3 separate regions of the Homo sapiens genome follow, and all the other regions are linked to region 1. Evidence: fine-mapped expression QTL. A gene starts in region 1. Each other region holds a variant in brackets. All regions are shown on one strand. Distances are from middle to middle.

Evidence for each region.
Region 2: its variant is fine-mapped to the expression of POLR2B in whole blood (TOPMed, PIP 0.97).
Region 3: its variant is fine-mapped to the expression of POLR2B in monocytes (BLUEPRINT, PIP 0.95).

What each region holds. Positions count from the first base shown.
Region 1 is chr4:56,975,521-56,983,662 of GRCh38, reverse strand. It overlaps POLR2B (RNA polymerase II subunit B), which reads right to left and starts at 4,767. Exons shown (of 25, transcript NM_000938.3): 1 at 4,659-4,767. The coding sequence starts at 4,677. It overlaps NOA1 (nitric oxide associated 1), which reads left to right and starts at 6,057. Exons shown (of 7, transcript NM_032313.4): 1 at 6,057-7,221. The coding sequence starts at 6,078. RefSeq lists enhancers at 4,394-4,493, 6,315-6,384, 6,765-6,824 and a silencer at 6,485-6,564.
Region 2 is chr4:56,950,928-56,959,069 of GRCh38, reverse strand. No RefSeq gene overlaps it. Among named protein-coding and RNA genes, the nearest start is that of NOA1, 23 kb to the left of the region's middle. The variant A/G (reference allele first, on the strand shown) is at 3,231.
Region 3 is chr4:57,560,417-57,568,558 of GRCh38, reverse strand. No RefSeq gene overlaps it. Among named protein-coding and RNA genes, the nearest start is that of LINC02380, 140 kb to the right of the region's middle. The variant A/G (reference allele first, on the strand shown) is at 3,320.

The sequences.
Region 1 (8,142 bases):
CGCAGTGGCTCACGCTTGTAATCCCAGCAGTTTGGGAACCCAAGGCAGGTGGATCACAAGGCCAAGAGTTTGAGAGCAGCCTGGCCAGCATGGTGAAACCCCGTCTCTACTAAAAATACAAAAATTAGAAGGGCATGGTGGCGCATCCCTGAAATCCCAGCTACTCAGGAGGCTGAGGCGAAGAATCACTTGAACCTGGGAGGCAGAGGTTGCAGTGAGCCGATATCACACCACTGCACTCCAGCCTGGGGGACAAAGGGAAACTCCATCTCAAAAAAAAAAAAAAAAAAAAAACCTGAGCAGAGATCTCGTGTTATAAACAGGAGTAATCAGGCAAAAGGAAGGGACAAAGGTAGGAGTCAAGAAAGAATCCTACCAAATAGAAAAAAACAAATTGTGCAAAAGACCCCATAATGCAAGACAGGATGGCATATTCAAAGAATGATAGAAGGCCAATGTAGCGGAAGCACAGATTGTGAAGTTGGAAGTGGAATAAGAAGAGTTTGGCCTTTACCAAGAGATATGAGTTTAGCAGGGTTGTGGCTAGGTCAGATTTTCATTTCTGAAAGATCCCTATGGCCAGTGTGGAGAGTGGATTGGAAGTATACAAATCAGTTAGGAGTAATCTAGGCAAGGGATGGCAGCAACATGAACTAGAATGATGGTGGAGGGGATAGAGAAGTGGCCAGATTTGACATATTTAGGAGACAGAACCAACAGGGCTTGGTGACTGATTAGATATAGAGGTGAAAGAGAGGAGTCAAAAATGATGCCCAGGCTTTCGGTTTCAACAACAGAGGGTACAACAGTTGTACCTCAGTGTCCATTGGAGACTGGTTTCAGGACCTCCCATAGATACCAAACACAGATGCTTAAGTCCCTGACATGAAATGGCACTGTTATATACCCTAGGCACACATCCTCCTGTATCTTTTAAATTATCTCTAGATTATTTATAATACCTAATACAATGTAAATGCTATATAAATAATTATTTACTTGTAATGTTTATGGAATAATGGCAAGAAAAAAAAAGTCTGTACATTTTTACAAGGACGCAATTTTTTTTTAATATTCTCTTTTTTGTTTTTTGAGACAGGGCCTTGCTGTTACCCAGGCTGAAGTGCAGTGGTGTGATCACAGCTCACTGTAGCCTCAAATTCTTAGGGCTCAAGCAGTCCTCCCACCTCAGTATCCCGAGGAGCTGGGATCACAGGCACATGCCACCATGCCCAGCTAATTTTTTAAATTTTTTTGTAGAGATGAGGTCTCCCTATGTTGCCCAGGCTGGTCTCAAATTCCTGGCCTCAAGCTTTTTAATATTTTCAATCCAAGGTTAATTGAATATACAGATGTGAAACCTACAGATACAGAGGGCCAAATGTGCCCTTCACCGAGACAGAGAAGACAGGAGGCAGTGGCTTTGGGAGGGGAATAGCAAAAGAAAATAATTAGCTCAGTTTGGGCAGTTGACAAGGTTAAGCAGCCTGGGAGATATCCTAGTTGGCTAGTGGCAGTTAGATACCCCAGATTTTAAACTAGAAGTATACACATTCAGAAGTTATCCGCATACAGATGGTAACTGAAACAATGGAAAATGGATGAGATCACCCAAGGAGAATGTGAACAGGAAAGAAAATGAGAAAAGTCAGATAAGAAAAATCAAGTGAAAGTGATGTCGCTAGAAAGCTGAGTGAGTTTCCGGGAAGATGTCATCAACAGTTTTGAAGACCACAGGGTTTAGATAAGTTTTAAATATCCATCTCATTTATCAATTGAGAAGTCGCTGTCAATCTTAGAGCTATCTTAATGTAGTAGCATGAGTAGAAACATATTGTAATCAGTTGAAAAGCACATGAAAGATGAAAATTAGAAACAAGGACAGCTTATTATTTTTATAAGTTTGGCTGTGAGTGAAAGAAGAAAGGTAAAATACTAGAAGAAAAAGGTAACAATGAAAAGAATTTAACTTGTTTCCATGTGGATGACAGAAATCTGACATTTTCACATAGTGACTGAAAACTGATGAGGACGTTATCTAATAAACATTTCAGAGGACATGGGCAATAAAATGTAGGTTCACTGCTAAAGCAACCCTGATAAACTCTTTTTCCACAGGATCATTATACATTGCTAATAAGAATGCAAAATTAGTACAATCACCACTATGGTGGTCACTTGGCATCATCTAGCAAAATGTTAAACGTGCATATCATTTGACCTGACAATTTTATATGTAGAAATGTATCCCACAGACATACTTGGGCAAATTATACGTACAAGATTATTCATTTACAGCACTGTTTGAACCCGAAAATGACTAGAAATAAACCGAATATCCATCAAGAGACTACTTAAGTTATGGTACATCCACACAAACTAAGTAACTGGGGGTGGGGACACGGGAGGGGGGGCGCGATGCTTTCTGTGTACTGATACGAAAATCTCCTGGACACATTAAACAAAATCTAAAAGTGGAGAAAAGTGTGAATATTACTGTCTTTAAAAAAAGAGAAAATCCCATTTATATTTGCTTAAATATGCATAAGGAAACTGTGGAGGCTGGGCTTGGAGGTTCACACCTGCAATCCCAGCACTTTCGGAGGCCGAGGCAGGTGAATCACCTGAGGTCAGGAGTTTGAGATCAGCCTGGCCAACGTGGAGAAACCATCTCTACTAAAAATACTAAAATTAGCTGGGCACGGTGGTGTACGCCTGTAATCTCAGCTACTCGGGAGGCTGAGGCAGGAGAACTGCTTGAACCTGGGAGATGGAGGTTACAGTGAGCCGAGATTGCGCCACCACACTCAAGCCTGGGCAACAGAGCAAGACCATCAAAAAAAAAAAAAGAAACTGTGGAGTGATAAGAACCTCTTATAACTGTTATAACTGTAGTTACCCACTGTGGAGAGTTCAAACTGGGCAGATGGTGGGTAAGAAGGAGACGTGACACTTTAACTTGTTTTTTTTGAGACAAGGTCTCACTTTGTTCTCAGCTCATAGCAGTGTCAACTTCCCAGGCTCAAGCGATCCTCCAGCCTCAGCCCCACAAGTAGCTGGGACTATAGGTGAGCAAGACCACGCCCAGCTAATTTTTCTATTTCTTATAGAGAGGGGTCTCCCATGTTGCCCAGGCTGCTCTCGAACTCCTGAGCTCAAGTAATCCACCCGCCTCAGACTCCCAAAATGCTGGGATAACAGGCGTGAGCCACTGCACCAGCCACCCCACTTTAACATTTTTAAATTTTCTGGCTTGTGAGCTATGAGAATATATTACCCAGCCAAAAATTATGCTTTAAAAATCTTTTTTTTCGAATTTTTCTTCTACTGAGATAGTAGTTAAAAAAGAACAAGGAATATAATGATGCTAATAAATTTCTACAACACAAGATATAAATGAGACAGAAGTTTAAACAGCTTTAAAAGTTTAAGCTTTTGGCTGGGCACATTGGCTCATGCTTGTAATCCCAGCACTTTGGGAGGCCGAGACAGGCAGATGGTTTGACCTCAGGAGTTTGAGACCAGCCTGGGCAACATGGCCAGACCCCATCTCTTAAAAAAAAAAAAAAAAAATTAAGCTTTTGCTTCAATTTTTTCCATCTGATTTATCAGAAGTACCTGAGGGAATAGAGAGAGGAGATGTAGGGGGTGGCCAAGGAATTGAGAGCTATAAGAAAATAAGGTTTGAATTAGCAGATATGGAGAATGGAAAAGGCGGCTACGAAAATACACTAGACTCAACTAAGAATTTTTTTTTTTTTTTTTTGAGACAGTCTAACTCTGTCACTCAGGCTGTGGTGTAGTGGTGCGATCTCAGCTCACTGCAAACTCCGCCTCCTGGGCTCAAGCGATCGTCCGGCCTCAGCCTCCCGAGTAGCTGGGATTACAGGCGCACGCCATCACACTAGGCTAATTTTTGTATTTTTAGTAGATACAGGATTTCCCCATGTTTGTCAGGTTGGTCTCAAGCGATCTGCACATCTCGGCCTCCCAAAGTGCTGACGGGAGCCACCGCGCTCGGCCACTACTAAGAATTCCATATGCGCAAACAAACAGGTATTATACATTGGCCCAGTGCAGCAGAATACATATCATCTGAGAACTGTGACATTGTGAGAAGAGGAAGTTAAAAGTCATCCTTTAAGACAATTTACTTTGACTTACAAACAGTATGAAGAAATGTCAGACTAAACCGAGTCCCCCCCGCCACCCCCACCCCCCGATATTCTCTGTCCCGGAATATTTCCAGGACCTTCCACACTGCCTGACACAGGCTGACACTCAACAATTGAGCTATTCGTTAAGTCGACTGTGGCTTTAAGGAAAATTTTTAAAGGGTGCCCTTTGCTTCAAATTCAAAACGTAATTTATCTTACGATTCTGCACGCTACTTCACCACAGGAAACGAGGATCAGATCTAACGGAACGAGAAAGTGCAGAGAGCAGCAGTGAACGTAACCTGGAACATTAACACTATGTTCCCTGCACCCTCCGCCTCTCCCTACCCCAGTTTCGTTCCCGGCCTGGTAAGTGTGGGAACAAGGCTGGGGACTGTGCAGCCGGCGCATGGGAAGGCCCCAAATCCTCAATCCAATCAGTTCCCAACGCTTTCCTGCTTAAATGGACCGCCACGGCGTGTGTTTTGAGCGTTCACCTACCCTCATCCGCGTCGTACATATTGCCAAACGGTTCTCGAGCTCCTAACTCTTGAAATCAAAAGACAAAAACCGCCCAGAAGCCAGCAGCGCCAGGAGCTAAAGACGAAGTAACTTCCGTCTCCGACGTTCCCAGAATACCACGCGTCTCACACCAAAGGCCGCCCACAGGGACGCCAAAGTTAGGATCTGCGCCTGCGCAAATTGTAGGTCAAGCTTGGGCCGGGGTTAGGGTTGCACACGCGTAAATTGTGGGCCGCCGCTGCCGGGCTGATTGAGAGGACAGCTCCCGCAATCTGCGGTCGTATCCGTTCCGTCAATGTTTTATTTCTGCTTGTTTTTCAATGTTGTTGCACAAATAACGACACCTGAAAACAAAACCAGGTATACTTATTATTAAAAAGTGTTCGTCCTGTGAATCCGCAACATTGGGATGCTCAATTTATTTGCCTTTATAAGGACCAAAACACGAAGCTATTTTTTATTTTTATTTATTTATTATTTTTTGAAATGGAGTCTCGCTCTGTCGCCCAGGCTGGAGTGCAGTGGAGCGATCTCGGCTCACTGCAACCTCCGTCTCCCGGGTTCAAGCGATTCTCCTGCCTCGGCCTCCCAAATAGCTGGGATTACAGGCAAGGGTCACCACGCCCGGGTAATTTTTGTATTTTTAGTAGAGACGGGGTTTCACCACGTTGGCCAGGCTGGTCTCGAACTGCTGACCTCAGGTGATCCACCCGCCTCGGCCTCCCAAAGTGCTGGGATTACAGGCGTGAGCCACGCGCCCGGCCGGAAGCTCCTTTCTGTTTTTGTTTTGTTTTGTTTTTTTGAGACAGGCTCGCTCTGTCGCCCAGGCTGGAGTGCAGTGGCGCGATCTCGGCTCACTGCAACCTCCGCCTCCCGCGTTCAAGCCATTCTCCTGCCTCAGCCTCCCGAGTAGCTGGGACTACAGGCGCCCGCCACCACGCCTGGCTAATTTTTTGTATTTTTAGCAGAGATGGGGGTTTCACCGTGTAAGCCAGGATGGTCTCGATCTCCTGACCTCATGATCCGCCCGCCTCGGCCTCCCAAATTGCTGGGATTACAGGCGTGAGCCACCGCGCCCGACCCCGGAAGCTCCTTTTTAAGTGTGATTTATTAAGGGCGGCTTGTGCTAGCAGTGAGGCGTTAAGCCTGAAAGTGAAAAAACCCAAAACACTCACTGCTCTTTTCTGCCCACCTAGCTCAATCCTCCAGTGCCTTTGCCATAGCTTTAAGTAGGTTCTCAGTCTCAGAGCTTAAATCGCGAGAACTGACGGGATTAGACGCAAAACCAACCAGGACAGCTCCCAAGTACCCACGCGCTTTCGTCTCGGGTCAAATGCGCGCCTCGGACCCTAGTGCGCGTGCGCGCTGGTGGCTCCGCCCCTTTGGAGCTACTTCCTCATGCTGCCCGCTCGCCTACCGTTCAGGCTGCTGAGCCTTTTCCTTCGTGGATCCGCTCCCACGGCAGCGCGCCATGGCCTCCGGGAGCCGCTCCTGGAGAGGAGGTGCGCTGCCGCCTCCTCCTTCCAGCACTCATCGAGTCTGGGACGCGAGCTTCCTTATGACCCCGTGGACACGGAGGGCTTTGGAGAAGGTGGTGACATGCAGGAGCGTTTTCTGTTCCCGGAGTACATCCTGGATCCGGAGCCGCAACCCACCCGCGAAAAGCAGCTGCAGGAGCTCCAGCAACAGCAGGAGGAGGAGGAGCGACAGAGGCAGCAGCGGCGGGAGGAGCGGCGACAGCAAAACCTACGGGCCAGGTCCCGGGAGCACCCGGTCGTGGGGCACCCGGACCCGGCATTGCCGCCCAGCGGCGTGAACTGCTCGGGCTGTGGGGCAGAGCTGCACTGCCAGGACGCCGGAGTGCCCGGCTACCTGCCCCGAGAGAAGTTCCTCCGCACGGCGGAGGCAGACGGCGGGCTGGCACGGACCGTGTGCCAGCGCTGCTGGCTGCTGTCGCACCACCGGCGCGCTCTACGCCTGCAGGTGAGCCGCGAGCAGTACCTGGAGCTGGTGAGCGCCGCGTTGCGGCGGCCCGGCCCCTCCCTGGTGCTCTACATGGTGGACCTGCTGGACCTGCCCGACGCCCTGCTGCCCGACTTGCCCGCGCTGGTGGGCCCCAAGCAGCTGATCGTGCTGGGAAACAAAGTGGACCTCCTGCCCCAGGATGCTCCTGGCTACCGGCAGAGGCTGCGGGAGCGACTGTGGGAGGACTGTGCCCGCGCCGGGCTCCTGCTGGCCCCTGGCCACCAAGGGCCACAGCGCCCCGTCAAGGACGAGCCACAGGACGGGGAGAATCCGAATCCGCCGAACTGGTCCCGCACAGTGGTCAGGGACGTGCGGCTGATCAGCGCCAAGACCGGCTATGGAGTGGAAGAGTTGATCTCTGCCCTTCAGCGCTCCTGGCGCTACCGTGGGGACGTCTACTTAGTGGGCGCCACCAACGCCGGCAAATCCACTCTCTTTAACACGCTCCTGGAGTCCGATTACTGCACTGCCAAGGGCTCCGAGGCCATCGACAGAGCCACCATCTCCCCTTGGCCAGGTGAGTTTTAGGAGGCTCGCCCTCTTCGTTTCCTGGCAAGGTGGACGTCTGGTCCTGGCCGAGGCACCGAGTACATCCTCCCTTAATGTCCACTGCGGGCTGCCTGTACCCTTCCCTTTACAAATTCTCTCCCCACTCTGGTCACACCTCTCTTCTGTGTCAGCTTACTGCTAGGGAAAATTGAGGATGTGTTGTAGTAATTTTCAATGGAAGTGTTTATGGAGCACGTCTCTGTTCCCAGTCACTAAGCACTGGAGATAGACCAGGGAACAAAGCAAAGTTCCTGTTCTGGAGATTTGCTTTGTAACTTCTTTGTATATTGTTCCAGAAAGTGTGCGTCCTTTTTACTGTCTGAACCTAATGAACTTTGTGTTTTGTTTGTTTGTTTTGTTTTGGAGACAGAGTCTCACTCTGTCGCCCAGGCTGGAGTGCAGTGGCGTGATCTCGGCTCACTGCAACCTCCGCCTCCCGGGTTCAAGTGATTCTCCTGCCTCAGCCTCCCTAGTAGCTGGGATTCGAGGCATGCGCCACCACACCAAGCTAATTTTTGTGTTTGTTTTGTTTTGTTTTTTGAGACGGAGTCTTGTCTTGCTCTGTTGCCCAGGCTAGAGTGCAGTGGCTCACTGTAACCTCCGCCTCCCGGGTTCCAGTGATTCTCCTCCCTCAGCCTCCTGAGTAGCTGGGATTACAGGCGCACGCCACTATGCCCAGCTAATTTTTATATTTTTAGTAGAGACGGGGTTTCACTATGTTGGTCAGGCTGGTCTCAAACCCCTGACCTCGTGATCCGCCCGCCTCAGCATCCCAAAGTGCTGGGATTACAGGTGTGAGCCACCGCGCTTGGCCTAATTTTTGTATTTTCAGTAGAGATGGGGTTTCACCTTGTTGGCCAGGCTGGTCTGGAACTCTTGGCCTCCCAAA
Region 2 (8,142 bases), 25 kb after region 1:
GTATATGTGGCCCATTGCTGACCAAGAAGTCATTATGCGATACATGACTGTACTTCTTTATCCATTAATCTGAATATAACGACATCTTTTGAATCAGTAGTCACTTACACTATGACAGGGTACAAGAATTAGTGGGCTCTTCTGGCCAGGAACGGGAGGAGAAATTAAGGGCAAAGTACCAACTCCTCACTTCCACAGATCACAGAGGTGGTTAGGGGTTGCTAGAAAACAATGAAGCAAGTTTATTCTAGATTGTTTACCTGGCTCTGCAGCACTGTGGTGTTGAGCATGTCACCTCTTTTGTATTCATGACACCCAAAAGAAGTAAAATAAATTCCATCAAAGTACTTTTTGACTTTTATGTGATATTAGGTTCAAAGTTTTATTTTAAAAAGTTACACGTAATCCCTCTGCTTTTCCCCCCTCTAATTAAACTAAAATAACAACATCTTCTTCAAAGTTACTAAGACAAATTAAAGTTGTAATATGTTTTGTATCTTTAATCACCATAAATGCCAAGCTGTGCCGATCACTAAGTCTTTACTGTATAGTTCCCCAGAGTCTAGTTTATTTAACTTGAGACACTCACTTCCCATAACAACCAAGGAGAAGCGGAGTAGAGATGCAATCTTGTGTGCCTGTGTCTCTAGTGTTCAGACTCTTCTTGCACAATGGACATAGGCTGGTTTCCTGCAGCTGACTAACATGGAGGAGCTCCAGCTGTGTCAGCCATGACAGAGTTGTTATTGCTTCACTGAGTAAGCACCCAGCGCGCAAGCTGAGGCGGGCTGTTTCATAGACGGGCTCGGATCATTTACCCTGGCTTCCCTCCCACTTGGCTCTGTGTCGTGGAGCATTAGAATCATTTCCATTCTTTCTCAGCTGTTCCATTTTCTTTTGGCCACTTTCCTCCTCCCAGGGGGATTGTTTTCTCTCAATTGTCAAAGAGTAATGCTTAAACATTAAAAACAAGATTTCAGACTCGTGAATCAAATCGATGACACCTCTGCCTGCTCTGAATGTCTCTCTGTCATATTATCTGCCCCCATTAAGACCTTGTCGTGAGAGGGGAATGGTTCAAGATAGGTTTTTTTGTTTTTTGTTTTGTTGTTGTTGTTTTATTTTTTCAGAGACAGGGTCTCACTCGGCTGCCCAGGCTGGAGTGTAGTGGTGTAATCACAGCTCAACGCAGCCTTGACCTCCTGGGCTCAAGTGATACTCCCGCCTCAGCCACCCGAGTAGCTGGAACTATAGGCAGGTGCCACCACACCCAGCTAAATTTTTTATTTTTGTAGAGACAGGGTCTCACTTTGTTGCCCAGGCTGGTCTCAAACTCCTAGCTTCACCAATCCTCCCACCTCAGCCTCCCAAAGTGCTGGGATTACAGGTGTGAGCCACCACACCAGGCCAAGATTACTATTTTAACATCATATTGCAGTGATGCCTCACCTTTTCCCTTCATGTCATGGAGTTTCATGATCTGAATACTCCTAAGTGTATCTGGATCATCCTCAAAACACCCACTGCTTGGATTCCCAGGTTCCTGCTTTCAAAAGCTGCTTTTGGCTTCGCAAATAATTCTCCGAATTTACCTACTGTGTAGTCAATCTAGTGGGAGAATTTATTTGGTCTTAATATTCTTATTGGTAGATGCTGTAATAGTATGATGCTTAATCACAGACACCGTCAGTACCTCTACCTGGTAGCTGTGGTAAATTGGAAAAAACTGAGGTCACACATACACAAAACAAGCAGACACGTTAGAGAATACATCATCATGTGTCAGGTGATATTGGAAGTGAAATATATGGAAGTGAAAGACTGCCAAGATCCTTTCTAACCTTTCAGTAAGCCCTAGAAAATAGCAGGCATGGCTGGGCGTGGTGGCTCACCCCGGTAATCCCAGCATTTTGGGAGGCCGAGGCAGGTGGATCACGAGGTCAGGAGTTTGAGACCAGCCTGGCCAACATAGTGAAACCCCGTCTCAACTAAAAATACAAAGGTGGCACATGCCTGTAATCCTAGCTACTCGGGAGGCTGAGGCAGGAGAATTGCTTGAACCTGGGAGGCAGAAGTTGCAGCGAGCCGAGATCGTGCCACTGCACACCAGCCCCAGGCGACAGCGTGAGACTCCGTCTCAGAAAAAAAGAAGAAAAGAAAAAGAAAATAGCAGACATTCAATGAATGGATCAATAGAGTGAGAGGATTTTTTTGTTTGCTTGGTTTTTGCCTTCCCTGGAAAATAGGGAAAGAGCAAACTTAAATTTGCTTAGTAGCATTTACACTAACCTCTTATAGAGTTTCTTCCTTTCCTGCATAAAGCCAGTACCTCATGGTTGTTGTATTTCAGACTTCAGATTACTCGTAGTTGCTATAATCATATGATAGCCCATATATCTTTTTACTCCTTTATACTTATATAATAATAATAATAGCTATCACTTATATAGTAATAAAATGAGCCAGGCACTCTTTCAAGTGCTTTACATATATTAACTGAATCCTTACAGCAACCCCATGCAGAAATACTATTATTACCCACATTTACAGATGAGGAAACTGAGGCACAAATAACTTACCCAGGATCTAACTAATAAGTGATGGAGCTGTGATTCAAACAAACCCAGGCACTCTATCTCCAGAACTCATGTGGGGCTTCGTTGTTTTATTTTGAAAAAGGTTCTCACTCTGTCACCCAGGCTAGAGTGCAGTGACACAGTCTCAGCTCACTATGGCACCCACCTCCCAGGCTCAAGCAATCCTTCCATGTCAGCCACCCAAGTAGCTGGACTACAGGCACACGCCACCGCACTCAACTAATTTTTTAATTTTTTGTAGAAACAAGGTCTCACTATATTTCCCAGGCTGGTCTCAAACCCCTGTGCTCAAGCGATCTTCCTGAGTTGGCCTCCCAAAGTGCTAGGACTGCAGGTGTGAGCCACCGTGTGCCCAGCCTGGGGTTTTTAATTATAACAGACTTTGTTTTCATGTACAGTTCTATGGATTTTATCACACGTATATGTTTGTTTAATGACCACCATAATCACAATATAGAACAGTTCTGGCCGGGCACAGTGGCCTGTAATCCCAGCACTTTGGGAGGCTGAGGCAGGTGGATCATGAGGTCAGGAGTTCAAGACCAGCCTGGCTAAGATGGTGAAACCACGTCTCTACTAAAAATACAAAAATTAACCAGGCATAGTGGCGGGTACCTGTAATCCCAGCTACTC[A/G]TGAGGCTGAGGCAGGGAGAATCCCTTGAACGCGGGAGGCAGAGGTTGCAGTGAGCCAAGATCACAACACTGCACTCCAGCCTGGGCAACAGAGTGAGACTCCATCTCAAAAAAAAGAAAAAAAAGAACAGTTCCATCAATATCCATGTCTTCAACCACTGCACAGTAATTCCTCTATATACTAAAACCCATCAACAAATCTAAAGGTGAGAATTTTTCAACCTTAGGAAGGAAACCTACTTTGAAGACCTTCAAAGATAATAGCACAATTCTCTCGGGAATTCTGGACAACTACCACTTAATCTCCTTCTGGCTTCCTTTGAATTCTACCATATATAATTTCTCCCTGAGCATTTGTCTCAGAGCAGTGTGTGTGTGTGTGTGTGTGTGTGTGTGTGTGTGTAATGTGCTGTGCCCTTGCTGTCTTACTTCAGCACTGCTGCCCAAACCAAAACAGGTATCCCAGTTTGATTTCCATGCTCTCTCACCACCTCAGATGGCTTTAAATGGACTGTGCTTCCCTGGCTGGCTGGGAATCTTTCACATTGCTGATGAGCTTGCCAAGTACCACGGACAGATCACAGCATGCATGGAAATCCTTACCCACAATTCTGATTAAGAAAATAGTAAATTCGATATACAGAAAATTTGGGAAGCAAACATCCAAAAATTACACTAAACTATCATAGAAAAGAGACTGTAATTTTTCATCCTAATCCTACTCATGAGATTAGAACCGGTGATCCCCATTTACTTGCAAATCAAAAAGCCTCAAAAACCAATTTGATAATTTGGCCCTGAACTTGTTTAAATGCCCCTGCTTTTCCTACTTGTGTAGCTCTCAATCCAGTTGCCTGTTTCTTGCTACATCTTACTGACTTTCCCTAAACAGGAGTTACTGGGTTGTCCAATTAAAAGCTTTCTATTATTGCAAGTTTTGCTCAGCATTTAGCATTTGACCTAAATAGATTTATCTTTTTTTTCCCTGTCTTCGACTTTAAACTCTGTGGTGAGGCCGGGCACGGTGGCTCACGTCTGTAATCCCAGCATTTTGGGAGGCCAAGGCAGACAGATCACCTGAGGTTGGGAGTTTGAGACCAGCCTCACCAATGTGGAGAAACCCCATCTCTATTAAAAATACAAAATTAGTCAGGCATGGTGGCGGGCGCCTGTAATCCCAGCTTACTCGGGAGACTGAGGCAGGAGAATCGCTTGAACCCAGGAGGCGGAGGTTGCAGTGAGCTGAGATCGCGCCATTGCACTCCCGCCTGGGCAACAAGAGCGAATCTCTGTCTTTTAAAAAAAAAAAAAAAAAAAAAAAACTATGGTGAAATACTCAACAGGAAGGCAAATTAAAGAAATGGGGCTGCTTTCCTTTAAAATACCAGATAAAAGATGTATTTTACTGAAACACTAGCTTTTTCATTAGATAAATAAAGCTTTATGTAAAGCTAATTCTGAGAAATGTGTTAAAATTTTTCAGCATGGGAACGTGGACAAGAGACTGTTCAACAAAGGAGAACAATGTGTAACTGTCCCATGTACCCACTAACTCCCCCGTTGGGCATGGAGTAAGTCACTTCTAGGTACAGTTGCTCATTTGTTCGTTGAAAATGCTTCTTTTTTATTAACTAGGTTTGAGGACATGATTAGGTTTATATCCACATCTATTGCTGAATAACAAACCACCCTGAAACTTGGTGACTTGAACCAAGCGATTATTTGCTCCCATTCTTTAGTTTGGCAACTTAATCTAGGCTCCGCTCAATGGTACTTCTGCTCTGTGGCGACATGCATTTGCACACAGCACACAGCCAGGCTGACCTCACGCACAGGAGTTTCAGCTGAGATGGTTGTAACAGCTGAGCAAGTGAGGCATTTTCCATTGATCACTCTCTCTTCCAAGGGTCTCATCCTCAAGTAGGCTAGTTCAAGCTTGTTCACAAGGTGACAGTGTTCACAAAAAGCCTGAGAGTAGAGCTTGCAAAGCCTCTGGAGGCCGAAGCTCAAAGTCACACAGTGCCACTTCTGCTGCATTTATTGGTCAAAGCAAGTCACAATGGCAGCACAGATTCAAACATGTACTGGAATTTGTGGCTATTTTAATCCATCACAAGCTTTTGGCGTTGATCACCCTGAAGAAAATACAAATATAATGTGCTATCTAATTGGCCTATAGAAAGTGAATCCAGGCCGGGCACGGTGGCTCAAGCCTTTAATCCCAGCACTTTGGGAGGCCAAGATGGGTGGATCACGAGGTCAGGAGTTCGAGACCAGCCTGGCCAATATGGTGAAACCCCGCCTCTACTAAAAATACAAAAATTAGCTGGGTGTGGTTGCGTGTGCCTGTAGTCCCAGCTACTCAGGAGGCTGAGGCAGAAGACTCGCTTGAACCTGGAACCTGGGAAGTGGAGGTTGCAGTGAGCCGGGATTGCACCACTGCACTCCAGCCTGGGCGACAGAGTGAGACTCCATCTCAAAAAAAAAAAAAAAAATCCAATATAAATCTATCAAATAAGAAATACTGAGTCCAGGCACAGTGGCTCATGCCTGTAATCCCAGCACTTCGGGAGGCAGAGGCAGGTGGATCACCTAAGGTCAGGAGTTCGAGACCAGCCTGACCAACATGGTGAAACCCCATCTCTACTAAAAATATAAAAAGTAGCTGGGCATGGTAGTGCATGCCTGTAATCCCAGCTACTCAGGAGGATGAGGCAGGACAATCGCTTGAACCTGGGAGGTAGAGGTTGTGTTGAGGTAAGATTGCGCCACTGCACTCCAGCCTGGGCAACAAGATGAAACTCCGTCTTAAAAAAAATAAAGAAAGAAAGAAAAGAAAAGAAAAAAAGAGAAATATTATCCTAATTTAAATTTACCTCAGAAGTCTGATACACAGAGCTGCTATATGACGAGCAAAGAAGTGGGGAGAGATTTTCAGCTTTTGATTTTATCATAAATCCTTTAGGAATATTTTGTTTTTACTTATTAATGTGTACATATTACTTGGGTAAATTTCAATGAAAAAAAAAATCCATGCAGACTCAATTCTGGGCTATCTCTCCCTCTAGCTCCAGTACTTATACTAGAAGAAAGCTATCCTAGGAAGTCCTCTACCTGGGAAGTCTCTGTAATGGGGAAGGTAATGAGAACACAGAAATGAAGGGCCTTCATGTCTCAAAATAGTATCCTACTGCTCTCCAAGAAAGAAAAATGGACAAGGGTTTGAGGCAGAGTTCAAGCTGAGGGTCCTGAAGCCATACAAACTCGTTTCTTTTCCTGGCTCCATAACCAGGGAGAGAGGTGGGGAGGCCGTGTGGCTGGAAGTAATTTCAGAACCCCTTTTAGCAGTGGCCATCTGCCAGCATTTTCGCATCTCTATCCCTCCCCTCCCCACACCCGCTTGTCCTGCCAGAGCACACTGGGCCCATACTGAGACAGAAGGGGAGGCAGGGAACAAGGAGAACCATATAGGAGGTCCCTTTGTTCCTAAATCCATCTTCAACTCCATGTTTTACTAGAATCTTATATTGGGGCTGGGTGCAGTGGCTCACGCCTGTAATCCCAGCACTTTGGGAGGCCGAGGTGGGCGGATCACGAGTTCAGGAGATCAAGACCATCCTGGCTAACACGGTGAAACCCCGTCTTTACTAAAAATACAAAAAATTAGCCGGGCGCGGTGGCGGGTGCCTGTAGTCCCAGCTACTTGGGGGGCTGAGGCAGAATGGTGTGAATCCAGGAGGCAGAGCTTGCAGTGAGCCAAGATCGCGCCACTGCACTCCAGCCTGGGTGAAAGAGCGAGACTCCATCTCAAAAAAAAAAAAAAAAAAGAATCTTATATTGGGGTATCTAGAGATGTGATAGTGTTGAAATCCAAAAAGAAACTACTTGAACTGTCCCCATCAGTTAGTGTAAAAACTATCAAGATGAAAAAAACATTGGTCAAAAAGGTGTAAAGCCAATTTTTTTTTTTGAGATGGAGTCTTGCTCTGTCGCCCAGGCTGGAGTGCAGTGGCACAATCTCGGCTCACTGCAACCTCCACTTCGTTCAAGCGATTTTTCTGCCTCAGCCTCCCGAGTAACTGGGACTACAGGCGTGTACCACCATGCCTGGCTAATTTTTGTATTTTTAGTAGAGACGAGGTTTCAGTATGTTGGCCAGGCTGGTCTCTAACTTCTGACCTTAAGTGATCTGCCCACCTCGGCCTCCCAGAGTGCTAGGATTACAGGCATGAGCCACCACACCTGGCCAAAAGGTGATTTTTAAATGCTTTATGAATTAATTTCATCATATATTTACAAGGTTATTAAGTTTGAAGAGGCCACTTACTCTAATGAAAGTGATCAAGCATTCTGGCAAGACTTGAAATCTGGGGATCTGCATAGGTCTCAGGGAATATCTTGAGATTTTCCAGGTTCTGCTACAAGGCACATTGCCCACATAGGTATGAATGTCAGAGGTGTGTGAACCAGAGCAACTTCATCTTAAATAGGAGCTGGGTAAAATGAGGCTGAAACCTACAGTGCTGCATTCCCAGATGGTTAAGACATTCTAAGTCACAGGATGAGACAGGAGGTCAGCACAAATTACAGGTCATAAAGACCTTGCTGATAAAACACGTTGCAGTAAAGGAGCCGGCCAAAATCAACCAAAACCAAAATGGTGATGAGAGCAACCTCTGGTCATCCTCACTGCTACACTCCCACCAGCGCCATGACAGTTTACAAATGCCACAGCAACATCAGGAAGTTACCCTACATGGTCCAAAAAGAGAAGGCATAAATAATCCACCCCTTGTTTGGCATAGGAATAACCATAAAAATGGGGAACCAGTAGCTCTCGGGGCTGCTCTGTCCATGGAGTAGCCATTCTTTTATTCCTTTCCTTTTTTTTTTTTTTTTTTTTTTTTTGAGA
Region 3 (8,142 bases), 580 kb before region 1:
GCAGTGTGTAGAGGGAAATGTACAGCACTAAATGCCCACAAGAGAAAGCAGGAAAGATCTAAAATCAACACCCTAACATCACAATTAAAAGAACTAGAGAAGCAAGAGGAAACAAATTCAAAAGCTAGCAGAAGGCAAGAAATAACTAAGATCAGAGCAGAACTGAAGGAGATAAAGACACAAAAAACCCTTCAAAAAATCAGTGAATCCGGGAGGAGGAGCCAAGATGGCCGAATAGGAACAGCTCCGGTCTACAGCTCCCAGCGTGAGCGACGCAGAAGACAGGTGATTTCTGCATTTCCATCTGAGGTACCGGGTTCATCTCACTAGGGAGTGCCAGACAGTGGGCGCAGGCCAGTGTGTGTGCGCACCGTGCGCGAGCCGAAGCAGGGCGAGGCATTGCCTCACCTGGGAAGCGCAAGGGGTCAGGGAGTTCCCTTTCCGAGTCAAAGAAAGGGGTGACAGATGCACCTGGAAAATCGGGTCACTCCCACCCGAATATTGCGCTTTTCAGACCGGCTTAAGAAATGGCGCACCACGAGACTATATCCCACACCTGGCTCAGAGGGTCCTACGCCCACGGAATCTCACTGATTGCTAGCACAGCAGTCTGAGATCAAACTGCAAGGCGGCAACGAGGCTGGGGGAGGGGCGCCCGCCATTGCCCAGGCTTGCTTAGGTAAACAAAGCAGCCAGGAAGCTCGAACTGGGTGGAGCCCACCACAGCTCAAGGAGGCCTGCCTGCCTCTGTAGGCTCCACCTCTGGGGGCAGGGCACAGACAAACAAAAAGACAGCAGTAACCTCTGCAGACTTACGTGTCCCTGTCTGACAGCTTTGAAGAGAGCAGTGGTTCTCCCAGCACGCAGCTGGAGATCTGAGAACGGGCAGACTGCCTCCTCAAGTGGGTCCCTGACCCCTGACCCCCGAGCAGCCTAACTGGGAGGCACCCCCCAGCAGGGGCACACTGACACCTCACACGGCAGGGTATTCCAACAGACCTGCAGCTGAGGGTCCTGTCTGTTAGAAGGAAAACTAACAACCAGAAAGGACATCTACACCGAAAACCCATCTGTACATCACCATCATCAAAGAACAAAAGTAGATAAAACCACAAAGATGGGGAAAAAACAGAACAGAAAAACTGGAAACTCTAAAACGCAGAGCACCTCTCCTCCTCCAAAGGAACGCAGTTCCTCACCAGCAACAGAACAAAGCTGGATGGAGAATGATTTTGACGAGCTGAAAGAAGAAGGCTTCAGACGATCAAATTACTCTGAGCTACGGGAGGACATTCAAACCAAAGGCAAAGAAGTTGAAAACTTTGAAAAAAATTTAGAAGAATGTATAACTAGAATAACCAATACAGAGAAGTGCTTAAAGGAGCTGATGGAGCTGAAAACCAAGGCTCGAGAACTACGTGAAGAATGCAGAAGCCTCAGGAGCCGATGCGATCAACTGGAAGAAAGAGTATCAGCAATGGAAGATGAAATGAATGAAATGAAGCGAGAAGGGAAGTTTAGAGAAAAAAGAATAAAAAGAAATGAGCAAAGCCTCCAAGAAATATGGGACTATGTGAAAAGACCAAATCTACGTCTGATTGGTATACCTGAAAGTGATGTGGAGAATGGAACCAAGTTGGAAAACACTCTGCAGGATATTATCCAGGAGAACTTCCCCAATCTAGCAAGGCAGGCCAACGTTCAGATTCAGGAAATACAGAGAATGCCACAAAGATACTCCTCGAGAAGAGCAACTCCAAGACACATAATTGTCAGATTCACCAAAGTTGAAATGAAGGAAAAAATGTTAAGGGCAGCCAGAGAGAAAGGTCGGGTTACCCTCAAAGGAAAGCCCATCAGACTAACAGCGGATCTCTCGGCAGAAACCCTACAAGCCAGAAGAGAGTGGGGGCCAATATTCAACATTCTTAAAGAAAAGAATTTTCAACCCAGAATTTCATATCCAGCCAAACTAAGCTTCATAAGTGAAGGAGAAATAAAATACTTTATAGACAAGCAAATGCTGAGAGATTTTGTCACCACCATGCCTGCCCTAAAAGAGCTCCTGAAGGAAGCGCTAAACATGGAAAGGAACAACCGGTACCAGCTGCTGCAAAATCATGCCAAAATGTAAAGACCATCGAGACTAGGAAGAAACTGCATCAACTAATGAGCAAAATCACCAGCTAACATCATAATGACAGGATCAAATTCACACATAACAATATTAACTTTAAATATAAATGGACTAAATTCTGCAATTAAAAGACACAGACTGGCAAGTTGGATAAAGAGTCAAGACCCATCAGTGTGCTGTATTCAGGAAACCCATCTCATGTGCAGAGACACAAATAGGCTCAAAATAAAAGGATGGAGGAAGATCTACCAAGCCAATGGAAAACAAAAAAAGGCAGGGGTTGCAATCCTAGTCTCTGATAAAACAGACTTTAAACCGACAAAGATCAAAAGAGACAAAGAAGGCCATTACATAATGGTAAAGGGATCAATTCAACAAGAGGAGCTAACTATCCTAAATATTTATGCACCCAATACAGGAGCACCCAGATTCATAAAGCAAGTCCTCAGTGACCTACAAAGAGACTTAGACTCCCACACATTAATAATGGGAGACTTTAACACCCCACTGTCAACATTAGACAGATCAACGAGACAGAAAGTCAACAAGGATACCCAGGAATTGAACTCAGCTCTGCACCAAGCAGACCTAATAGACATCTACAGAACTCTCCACCCCAAATCAACAGAATATACATTTTTTTCAGCACCACACCACACCTATTCCAAAATTGACCACATAGTTGGAAGTAAAGCTCTCCTCAGCAAATGTAAAAGAACAGAAATTATAACAAACTATCTCTCAGACCACAGTGCAATCAAACCAGAACTCAGGATTAAGAATCTCACTCAAAGCCGCTCAACTACATGGAAACTGAACAACCTGCTCCTGAATGACTACTGGGTACATAACGAAATGAAGGCAGAAATAAAGATGTTCTTTGAAACCAACGAGAACAAAGACACCACATACCAGAATCTCTGGGACGCATTCAAAGCAGTGTGTAGAGGGAAATTTATAGCACTAAATGCCTACAAGAGAAAGCAGGAAAGATCCAAAATTGACACCCTAACATCACAATTAAAAGAACTAGAAAAGCAAGAGCAAACACATTCAAAAGCTAGCAGAAGGCAAGAAATAACTAAAATCAGAGCAGAACTGAAGGAAATAGAGACACAAAAAACCCTTCAAAAAATCAATGAATCCAGGAGCTGGTTTTTTGAAAGGATCAACAAAATTGAT[A/G]GACCGCTAGCAAGACTAATAAAGAAAAAAAGAGAAGAGAATCACATAGACACAATAAAAAATGATAAAGGGGATATCACCACCGATCCCACAGAAATACAAACTACCATCAGAGAATACTACAAACACCTCTACACAAATAAACTAGAAAATCTAGAAGAAATGGATACATTCCTCGACACATACACTCTCCCAAGACTAAAACAGGAAGAAGTTGAATCTCTGAATAGACCAATAACAGGCTCTGAAATTGTGGCAATAATCAATAGTTTACCAACCAAAAAGAGTCCAGGACCAGATGGATTCACAGCCGAATTCTACCAGAGGTACAAGGAGGAACTGGTACCATTCCTTCTGAAACTATTCCAATCAATAGAAAAAGAGGGAATCCTCCCTAACTCATTTTATGAGGCCAGCATCATTCTGATACCAAAGCCGGGCAGAGACACAACCAAAAAAGAGAATTTTAGACCAATATCCTTGATGAACATTGATGCAAAAATCCTCAATAAAATACTGGCAAACCGAATCCAGCAGCACATCAAAAAGCTTATCCACCATGATCAAGTGGGCTTCATCCCTGTGATGCAAGGCTGGTTCAATATACGCAAATCAATAAATGTAATCCAGCATATAAACAGAGCCAAAGACAAAAACCACATGATTATCTCAATAGATGCAGAAAAAGCCTTTGACAAAATTCAACAACCCTTCATGCTAAAAACTCTCAATAAATTAGGTATTGATGGGACATATCTCAAAATAATAAGAACTATCTATGACAAACCCACAGCCAATATCATACTGAATGGGCAAAAACTGGAAGCATTCCCTTTGAAAACTGGCACAAGACAGGGATGCCCTCTCTCACCACTCCTATTCAACATAGTGTTGGAAGTTCTGGCCAGGGCAATCAGGCAGGAGAAGGAAATAAAGGGTATTCAATTAGGAAAAGAGGAAGTCAAATTGTCGCTGTTTGCAGACAACATGATTGTTTATCTAGAAAACCCCATTGTCTCAGCCCAAAATCTCCTTAAGCTGATAAGCAACTCCAGCAAAGTCTCAGGATACAAAATCAATGTACAAAAATCACAAGCATTCTTATACACCAACAACAGACAAACAGAGAGCCAAATCATGGGTGAACTCCCATTCACAATTGCTTCAAAGAGAATAAAATACCTAGGAATCCAACTTACAAGGGATGTGAAGGACCTCTTCAAGGAGAACTGCAAACCACTGCTCAAGGAAATAAAAGAGGACACAAACAAATGGAAGAACATTCCATGCTCATGGGTAGGAAGAATCAATATCGTGAAAATGGCCATACTGCCCAAGGTAATTTACAGATTCAATGCCATCCCCATCAAGCTACCAATGAATTTCTTCACAGAATTGGAAAAAACTACTTTAAAGTTCATATGGAACCAAAAAAGAGCCCGCATTGCCAAGTCAATCCTAAGCCAAAAGAACAAAGCTGGAGGCATCATGCTACCTGACTTCAAACTATACTACAAGGCTACAGTAACCAAAACAGCATGGTACTGGTACCAAAACAGAGATATAGATCAATGGAACAGAACAGAGCCCTCAGAAATAATGCCGCATATCTACAACTATCTGATCTTTGACAAACCTGAGAAAAACAAGCAATGGGGAAAGGATTCCCTATTTAATAAATGGTGCTGGGAAAACTGGCTAGCCATATGTAGAAAGCTGAAACTGGATCCCTTCCTTACACCTTATACAAAAATCAATTCAAGATGGATTAAAGATTTAAACGTTAAACCTAAAACCATAAAAACCCTACAAGAAAACCTAGGCATTACCATTCAGGACATAGGCGTGGGCAAGGACTTCATGTCCAAAACACCAAAAGCAATGGCAACAAAAGCCAAAATTGACAAATGGGATCTAATTAAACTAAAGAGCTTCTGCACAGCAAAAGAAACTACCATCAGAGTGAACAGGCAACCTACAACATGGGAGAAAATTTTCGCAACCTACTCATCTGACAAAGGGCTAATATCCAGAATCTACAATGAACTCAAACAAATTTACAAGAAAAAACAAACAACCCCATCAGAAAGTGGGCAAAGGACATGAACAGACACTTCTCAAAAGAAGACATTTATGCAGCCAAAAAACACATGAAGAAATGCTCATCATCACTGGCCATCAGAGAAATGCAAATCAAAACCACTATGAGATATCATCTCACACCAGTTAGAATGGCAATCATTAAAAAGTCAGGAAACAACAGGTGCTGGAGAGGATGCGGAGAAATAGGAACACTTTTACACTGTTGGTGGGACTGTAAACTAGTTCAACCATTGTGGAAGTCAGTGTGGCGATTCCTCAGGGATCTAGGACTAGAAATACCATTTGACCCAGCCATCCCATTACTGGGTATATACCCAAATGAGTATAAATCATGCTGCTATAAAGACACATGCACACGTATGTTTATTGCGGCACTATTCACAATAGCAAAGACTTGGAACCAACCCAAATGTCCAACAATGATAGACTGGATTAAGAAAATGTGGCACATATACACCATGGAATACTATGCAGCCATAAAAAATGATGAGTTCATATCCTTTGTAGGGACATGGATGAAATTGGAAACCATCATTCTCAGTAAACTATCGCAAGAACAAAAAACCAAACACCACATATTCTCACTCATGGGTGGGAATTGAACAATGAGGTTACATGGACACAGGAAGGGGAATATCACACTCTGGGGACTGTGGTGGGGTCAGGGGAGGGGGGAGGGATAGCATTGGGAGATATACCTAATGCTAGATGACACATTAGTGGGTGCAGCGCACCAGCATGGCACATGTATACATATGTAACTAACCTGCACAATGTGCACATGTACCCTAAAACTTAGAGTATAATAAAAAAAAAAAAAAAAAAAAAGATCATGAAAAAAAAAAAAAAAAGGAAAAGTCTCAAGAAAAAAAAAAAAAAATCAGTGAATCCAGGAGCTGGTTTTTAGAAAGGATCAATAAAACTGATAGACTGCTAGCAAGACTAATAAAGAAGAAAAGAGAGAAGCATCAAATAGACGCAATAAAAAATGATAAAGGGGATATCACCACCGATCCCACAGAAATACAAACTACTATCAGAGAATACTATAAACAACTCTACTCAAATAAACTAGAAAATCTAGAAGAAACGGATAAATTCCTGGACACATACACTCCCAAGACTAAACCAGGAAGAAGTTGAATCTCTTAATAGACCAATAACAGGCTCTGAAATTGAGGCAATAATTAATAGCCTGCCAACCAAAAAAAGTCCAGGACCAGAAGAATTCACAGCCGAATTCTACCAGAGGTAGAAAGAGAAGCTGGTACCAATCCGTCCAAAACTATTCCAATCAACAGAAAAAGAGGGAATCCTCCCTAACTCATTGTATGAGGCCAGCATCATCCTGATACCAAAGCCTAGCAGAGACAGAACAAAAAAAGAGAATTTTAGCCAATATCTCTGATGAACATTGATGCAAAAATCCTCAGTAAAATACTGGCAAACTGAATCCAGCAGCACATCAAAAATTTTATCCACCACGATCAAGAAGGCTTCATCCCTGGGATGCAAGGCTGCTTCAACATATGCAAATCAATAAACGTAAAACATCACATAAACAGAACCAATGACAAAAACCACATGATTATCTCAATAGATGCAGAAAAGGCCTTCGAAAAAATTCAACAACGCTTCATGCTAAAAACTCTCAGTAAACTAGATATTGATGGAATGTATCTCAACATAATAAGAGCTATTTATGGCAAACCCACAGACAATATCATACTGAATGGGCAAAAACTGGAAGCATTCCCTTTGAAAACCAGAACAAGATAAGTAATCCCTCTCTCACCGCTTGTATTCAACACAGTGTTGGAAGTTTAGGCCAGGGCAATCAGGCAGGAGAAAGAAATAAAGGGTATTCAATTAAGAAATGAGGAAGTCAAATTGTCCCTATTTGCAGAGGACATGATTGTATATTTAGAAAACCCCATCATCTCAGCCCAAATTCTCCTTAAGCTGTTAAGCAACTTCAACAAAATCTCAGGATATATTATCAATGTGCAAAAATCACAAGCATTCTTATACACCAATAACAGACAAACAGAGAGCCAAATCATGAGTGAACTCCCATTCACAATTGCTTCAAAGAGAATAAAATACCTAGGAATCCAACTTACAAGGGATGTGAAAGATCTCTTCAAGAAGAACTAAAAACCACTGCTTAACGAAATAAAAGAGGACACAAACAAATGGAAGAATATTCCATTCTCATGGATAGGAAGAATCAATATCATGAAAATGGCCATACTGCTCAAAGTAATTTATAGATTCAGTGCCATCCCCATCAAGCTACCAATGACCCAATGACTTTCTTCACAGAATTGGAAAAAAACTGATTTATAGTTCATATGGAGCCAAAAAGGAGCCTGCATTGCCAAGACAATCCTAAGCAAAAAGAACAAAGCTGGACGCATCACACTACCTGACTTCAAACTATACTACAAGGCTACAGTAACCAAAACAGCATGGTACTTGTACCAAAACAGAGATATAAACCAATGGAACAGAACAGAGTCCTCAGAAATAATGCCACACATTTACAACCATCTGATTTTTGACAAACCTGACAAAAACAAGAAATGGGGAAAGGATGCCCTATTTAATAAATGATGCTGGAAAAACTGGCTAGCCATATGTAGAAAGCTGAAACTGGATCAATTCATTACACCATATACAAAAATTAATTCAAGATGGATTAAAGACTTACATGTTAG